2 linked regions of the Homo sapiens genome follow. The protein of the gene in region 1 interacts with the protein of each later gene in a pairwise test. Each region holds a gene or a part of one and is shown in the gene's direction. Other genes may lie near its edges. The genes, in order: PAWR and RRAS2.

The links.
Region 2: the proteins of PAWR (region 1) and RRAS2 interact in a two-hybrid assay, tested with the Homo sapiens proteins (one large-scale study listed by IntAct).

What each region holds. Positions count from the first base shown.
Region 1 is NC_000012.12:79,593,307-79,597,128, reverse strand, and holds part of PAWR (PRKC apoptosis WT1 regulator protein), read left to right. Parts: intron 1-470; coding exon 471-618; intron 619-2,695; coding exon 2,696-2,800; intron 2,801-3,822. UniProt on the Homo sapiens protein: Pro-apoptotic protein capable of selectively inducing apoptosis in cancer cells, sensitizing the cells to diverse apoptotic stimuli and causing regression of tumors in animal models.
Region 2 is NC_000011.10:14,352,500-14,356,321, reverse strand, and holds part of RRAS2 (ras-related protein R-Ras2), read left to right. Parts: intron 1-3,822. UniProt on the Homo sapiens protein: GTP-binding protein with GTPase activity, involved in the regulation of MAPK signaling pathway and thereby controlling multiple cellular processes. Regulates craniofacial development.

The sequences.
Region 1 (3,822 bases):
TGTGATTGCACCACTGCACTCCAGTCTGGGTGACAAGAGTGAGACCCCATCTCAAAAAAAAAAAAAAAAAAGATAATCTGGGAGATCTGTCCTATCGTAGTTCTCATAGTATCCATCACTGACCTTATTTTACTGATCATCTTGCTTTATTATTAGTTATATTCCCTTTTAACCAAAAGCTCTATGAAGGGCAGAGTCCATGTTTGTGTTTGCTGTTACGTCTTCAGTATCCAGAACAGTGTTCGTTACTTAACACCTATTCAGTAGATATTGGTCGAAAGAATTAATGGTACTTTTACATTTTTTTCATTGTGTGGGAATAATGATTAACTTCTACAGTTACAAATAAGTTGCTACTATAACCATATGTCCTTGGGGAATGTTAATTTTTTTAAGCTCAATAGAAAATATTCTTGGCATTTTTCTTGCTGAATACTAGGGATTTTAATAAAATGTTTATATTTCCACAGCACAACCAGTGTCTCTGAAGAAGATGTCTCAAGTAGATATTCTCGAACAGATAGAAGTGGGTTCCCTAGATATAACAGGGATGCAAATGTTTCAGGTACTCTGGTTTCAAGTAGCACACTGGAAAAGAAAATTGAAGATCTTGAAAAGGTATGGATTATAAGTTATTTAAGATTGATAAAATTAATATACCATTAGAATTCTTTTGTTTCATAGCAACTGAGTGAGAAAGGAAATAATATTCCTTAATATTTAATATGTGCGCTTTTCTGCCAACTGTTACCTTTAGTATATTAAAAGCCCTTGTTTTTGAAGTGGTTAGAAGTCTGAGCTGGCAAATATATACTACTGTGTATTTATTATATTGTCTGAATAGATTTTCATTTGTAACTTTACAAATTACAGGAGTAAATCTGAGTTAGGTCCATCTTTGGTGTTTGAAACAATTTTGTCTAAGAATATGCCTGTTTAAAAGTGTCTTTCAGTGCAAGTCAGATGACTCTTGGCATAAATTTATTAACCATAGGGTCTCAGGTTTGTGCCATAGACATTCAACCCCTAAAATTAGCAATGGTGTTGAATACTTTTGTAATTGTTGAAAATGTGTTTTGTTTTACTTGAGATTATTCTCTATATTATTAAAGATCTAATTTATATATGTTATGTAAAGAAATTTCATTTTTAAAACTTGTTTCTATTTTATAACATTTATGATTTTTTGAGGTCACATTTCTAAGCTTTAACAACAGTTTCTTCTTGGAATTATTATTTCATAGTTTTATTTATTTTTATTTATTTATTTAGTTTTGAGACAGAGTTTCGCTCTTGTTGCCTAAGCTGGAGTACAATGGCTCAGTATCGGCTCACTGCAACCTCCACTTCCCAGGTTCAAGTGTTTCTTCTGCCTCAGCCTTCCAAGTAACTGGGATTACAGGCATGCACCACCAAGCCCGGCTAATTCTTTTTTTGTATTTTTAGTAGAGAAGGGGTTTCACCATGTTGGTCAGGCTGGTCTTGAATTCCTAACCTCAGGTGATCCACCCGCCTCGGCTTCCTAAAGTGCTGGAATTACAGGCGTGAGCCACTGTGCCCAGCCTATTATTTCATAATTTTAAATTAAAAAGTTTAGACAATATGTAATCTAATAGTTTTGAAGATAGTTGCCCAGAAAGGCTTCGTGAGTTCCACAAGAGTTTGGATTGAATTGCTAGTAGTTGGCAGCAGCTAAGGGATATGGATGGTTGATTGCTCTGTAGGAGGTTTAGTAAGAAAGAAGCCAAGTTCTGGGCAAGGCCTTTTGAGCTCTGCTTCCCTTTTGCCCCCAAGGTGGCTGACCAAGCCCAGTGCCCTGGATTCTAAATAAGATGTCTTTGAAAAAGATGTTGCATTGTTTAAAGAAAAAAAAAATTAAAAATCAGTAATCTATTTTAGTTCCTTCTTTTTATCCATTATCAGTTAACTGGCAGAGCCAGAAGTAAAACTGAGGACCATTGTTTTTCTGTTTAGAGTTTCTATTGGGCCATCTCCTTTAAACTTTGTATTTTTAAGAAAAATTAATTTTGAATTATTTCAAACAAGATACCCATTAAAAAATAAGGTAGTTCATAACTTATAGTGGTGATAAGCTAAATAAGTTAAATCACAGGCCGGGCACAGTGGCTCACGCTTGTAATCCCAGCACTTTGGTAGGCTGAGGCGGGCAGATCACTTGAGGTCAGGAGTTCGAGACCAGCCTGGGCAACATGGCAAAGCCCCATCTGTACTAAAAATATGAAAATTACCCAGGCATGGTGGCATGCACCTGTAATTCCAGCTACTTGGGAGGCTGAGGCAGGAGAATCGCTTGAACCCAGGAGGTGGAGGTTGCAGTGAGCCAAGGTGCCATTGCACTCCAGCCTGGGTGACAAGAGTGAAACACTGCCATACATACATACACACACACACACACACACACACACACGAGGTTAAATCATTGAGTCTATTACATTAGTTTTGTTAAAGACTTGTATAAACATAGCTTTACTCAGGAGCATCCTAATATCTCCTGTGCATTCTCTGATTCCTTTTGTGGTGGGATCTTTGTTCCTTCACCAAATGTCTTAAGGGATTCATTGGAAATCTTCATGTATGTAAGATATTTTACCAAATTGGGGAGATATATGCCACTTAGGAAGATTATAAATAAACAATTACTTCCTAATTACTGGTTTTTAATTGTATCTACCAGGAAGTAGTAAGAGAAAGACAAGAAAACCTAAGACTTGTGAGACTGATGCAAGATAAAGAGGAAATGATTGGAAAACTCAAAGAAGAAATTGATTTATTAAATAGAGTAAGTATTTCACCATATTTCAGGTTTGGAGGGGTTTTTTTTGGCAATTGGATGAAAATATATAAATATGAAGAAATTATTAATTGCATTATTCACTTTGTTCTTTTGTTAGTGAAATAATAATTAGTAAGAGGTATCATTTTCTTCCAAAAACTGATTTCCTTTGGGCAGTTATCAGTTTAGCTCACTTAATTTTATTCTTTTGGAGATAGACTGATTTATGGATTTGTTCTCTGTTTTGTTAAAATCTGAGGGTGACAGGCGCTTTGTCACTACCATATGTAAGGGCACTGGCACAGAGTTGCCTCAAGAAATATCTAAAATTGGCCAGGCGCTGTGGCTCACACCTGTAATCTCAGCACTTTGGGAGGCCGAGGAGGGCGGATCACGTGAAGTCAGGAGTTCGAGACCAGCCTGGCCAACATGGTAAAACCCCGACTCTACTAAAAATATGAAAAATTAGCTGGGCATGGTGGTGGGCACCTGTAATCTCAGCTACTCAGAAGGTTGAGGCAGGAGAATTGCTTGATCCCAGGAGGCGGAGGTTGCAGTGAGCCAAGATTGCGCTGCTGCACTCCAGCCTGGGCAGCAAGAGTAAGACTCTGTCTCAAAAAAAAAAAAAAAAAACCCTAAAATTGGTACTCTTTATTATTATTATTATTATTTTTTGAGAAGGAGTCTCTCTCTGTTGCCCAGGCTGGAGTTCAGTGGCGCGATCTCAGCTCACTGCAACCTCCACCCCCCGGGTTCAAGTGATTCAAATTGATTACATCAAGATTTATTATTTTAAACTGCAAGAATAAATCTATAAATGTCTGCTTTTTTAACAGTAAAGAGTCTGTCTTGAAATAATGTTTCTTGTAACTAAAACTTATGGTGAATTTGTTTTAACCAGATGGTTGTGTGTTTGGGACAAGGATTAATACAGGGAAAAAAGAGCTGGATCATATGCTTTTAAAGCTGGAGAGCGAATACTTAATTTAGTGGCTTTGAATTAATTTTAGCTCTAAAACCTTTCCTTC
Region 2 (3,822 bases), on another chromosome or scaffold:
TGGAAATGTCATATGTGGGAGTCATATGCTAGTTTGGAGAGAGGAGGTGGCAAGTGGGGAAGTGGGATTGATAGTTGATTTGGGACCTGTGATCTGGTCTCTGCAAAAAGGAGCCTTTTTGGAGAGACAGGAACCCGACCACCTGGATGCAGTCTCAGCTCTACCACTTGCTGCATGTGTAATTTTAGGCAGGTTACTTAACTTCTCTGTACCTTAGTTTTCCCCATCTGTAAACTGGGGAAATATGGTGGACCACATATAGCTGTGAAATTAAATGAGTTAACATGTCAAGGGCTTAGAACAGTGTCTAGTACAGTCTGTAGTAAAGCTGCATACATTTTTATATTAATTTTAGATTATGGAGCTAAAGCGATTTTTTTATATTTACACTTAATAGGGTAGCTATTCATTGCCTGACTCCTGGAATGTTAAAATTCATTCCACCATGATTGTTTAGCAGTAGTAACTGGAGGGAGAGAACACAGCAGACTAATCATTTTAATAAGCAGAAGTCAGTTCTCTTGGTAGGAGATTAGAATGGCACAAATTGGACTTACTTTTTTAAGACTCCTGAAACACCAGACTGTTTTTACAATTTTCAGTATATATATTTTCTACTATGTGATTTTGAGCAGAAAAAAATATAAAATTGGGAACGGAGAATTTAAAAACAATGCCTTTTACCCTAACTTTCTTTGACTTAGATTTAGTTGTTACCTTCTGTTCATATGAAGAGTTGCAAAATTAGGGAACTAAGATAATTAAATTGAGATACCTTTTCCTTTTTAAAAATAAATATAACAAATCATAAAGTAGCCATGATAAAATGTAAAGTATTATGTTATTTAATGAATATGTGTGTGTACATTACCTCCTCCTTTCTGTTGCTCATATTTCTTTGAAAAATGTGTAAAGTTCTGTTGGTAGGTAGAACACCTAAATGTTAAGTAAACTCTAGGTAGGAAATGACTTCAGGATGGTACAGAGTGGTTAGGAGAGACTGCTGGGTGTGTGGGGTCTATGTCTCTCTACCCAGGTGACTTTGAGTAGTTTCTTAATCTGCCTTTATCTCGACTGAGCTTCTCTTTCTTCCCCATGAAATGTTGGGTTTGGTTGAACAAATTTCTGCACTTTTGAAATTCTAGGAGTGTTTTTTTTTTTTTATTCATTTAACTAGCTGTGTGTTTAGTCAAGTTTCTTAGGTTCTCTAAACCCAAGTTTCACCATTTGAGAAGGGAGAATAACATTAAATAATAGTACCCTTAGGGTTTTTGGAGTAAATAAAATAATGCAGGTAAATCATCCAGCACCGTGCCATCTACAGAGTAAGCAAATAAGAATTGTTGGCTGGGCGTGGTGGCTCACACCTGTAATCCCAGCATTTTGGGAGGCCAAGGTGGGTGGATCACTTGAGGTCAGGAGTTTGAGACCAGTCTGGCCAACATGGTGAAACCCCACCTCTACTAAAAATACAAAAATTAGCCGGGCGTGTTGGTGCGTGCTTGTAATCCCAGTTACTCGGGAGGCTGAGTCAAGAGAATCACTTGAACCTGGGAGGTGGAGGTCGCAGTGAGTCAAGGTTGCGCCACTGCACTCCAGCCTGGGCAGCAGAGTGAGACTCTTGTCTCAAAAAAAAAAAAAAAAAAAAAGAAATTGTTACTTGGTTTTATTTGCTGCTGTTAGTTCTGTATCTTGGTGTTCCTCCAAAACAAAATTTGTAATTTTTTCATTTTTCTTTGACACATAATCTGGTCTATTACTTTAAGTCTTCATTGCCCTCTCCTTCCTGGCTCAACCCTATACTCCCCTCCTTACTTCTGTGTGGTATTCAGGTGATGAATGTGGATTCCGTTTTGAGTTGGAGAAATTTCTTTTTGTCAGTTTGGATTTAATTTTAAGAAATAATGAGGTAAGCATTTAATTTTGGGGTTAGTGCTTTATCTGGTAACTCTGAGAAAAGGCCATATATGTTTTAAAAATTTACAGGGAGGTTTATATATTTTTTTTAGCATATTAACTTTTTATTCAACAATTTGCCAGATTTTGAGGTAGGTAGGGGTTAGCTGATTTCTCACGTCTTGAATTTCAGTCAGTCCTATGACCTGTTAGTCTGGACCCAGCATTGCTTTTTAAAAGTTTGTCTTTTGCTGAGTACTTTTTCATTGCTTTTTCCTGGGGCAGAGAGCCGAGAAGAGATTTCAGGAGATTTGTGTTAATAGTTAATTGATCCACATGTGAAGGTTGTGAGTTTAAATTCCCAATTTGCTGTTCCATTGCTACATCTCGAAGATTTTTCCTGCAATTAGAAACTACTTAAACTGTTAACTTTTATCTATTATTTTGAAACTAGACATTTTTAGTGTTTAAACTTTTTTAACATTAATGTACAAATGAATTGTTAGCATTGAGAAATAAGACACCTGCCCCCAAAGTGGTACCATACTAAAGGTTTTCTTGTTTGGGGAACAGTTGAAATGGTCCTGCAGGCAATTCCTAGATAAAATTTCTGTACACCCAAGGAAGAACATTTTCTTATAGAGGATGACTGCCTTTGGAGAAGAAGGAAATTTTAACCTGCAGTTTCTTAACTTACGTCTTATTCTTGTTTTGTTCATTCTCTTTCTCTTTGTGTCTGTCTCTGTGTGTGTGTGTTTGTGTGCATGCGTACCCCTGTTTTGGGATAAGGAAGTTGTAGGAATTGAGTGGGGACACTTTTTTTTTTTTTTTGAGACGAAGTTTCGCTCTTGTTCAGGCTAGAGTGCAGTGGTGCAATGGCGTGATCTTGGCTATCTGCAGCCTCCACATCCTAGGTTCAAGCGATTCTCCAGCCTCAGCCTCCCAAGTAGCTGGGATTATAGACAGGCATGTGCCACAACACTCAGCTAATTTTGTATTTTTAGTAGAGGTGGAGTTTCACCATGTTGGCCAGGGTGGTCATGAACTCCTGACCTCAGGTGATCCACCCGCCTGGGCCTGCACCATGCCTGGCCGAGTGGGAGCACTTTTGTTGAGTAGGTCAAGAATACTGCTTTCCCTTGGTAGATAACAGGCTACTGCTTACCGGGATGGGATTTTAATTCATCTGATTGCTGAAATATCATGGTCTTTCCTAAGCTTTGAATAAAAATAGTCTGCTCCATTCAGTTAGGAAAATAAATTGATAACTTTAAATTGGGGGAGTAGAGTGGGAAGAGACTTTCTTAAAGCTATTAAAAAAAATTTTAGCTGGGCACGGTGGCTCATGCCTGTAATCCCAGCACTTTGAGAGGCTGAGGCGGGCGGATCACTTGAAGTCAGGAGTTTGAGACCAGCGTGGCCAACATGGTGAAACCCTGTCTCTACTAAAAATACAAAAATTAGCTGGGTGTGGTGGCGGGCGCCTGCAATCCCAGCTACTACTCAGGAGCTGAGGCAGGAGAACTGCTTGAACCTGGGAGTCGGAGGGTTGTAGTGGGCGGAGATCATGCCACTGCACTCCAGCCTGGGCAACACAGCAAGACTATATCTCAAAAAAAAAAAATGTCTCTCTCTCTCTCTCTCCCTCTCTCTCTCTCTCTCTCTCTCTATATATATATATTTTAAAAGTTTCTTTTTCAAATTAAAGTTGGTCTTTAAAATTGAAACAGATTTTGTGATGCCACTTGACACGCCTTTTTTTCTGGTTGGGGAAAATGGTCTTTAGGATATTAATTCCACCGTGCCTTCCTTAATGAAAAGTGATAATGAGTAAAGGATTTTCACTTTGCGTGTAGACAGTATGGAGTTAATAGTCATGAATTTTGTTGAAAGGCCTTGATCTTGAATTACTTTGGGCAGAGCTGC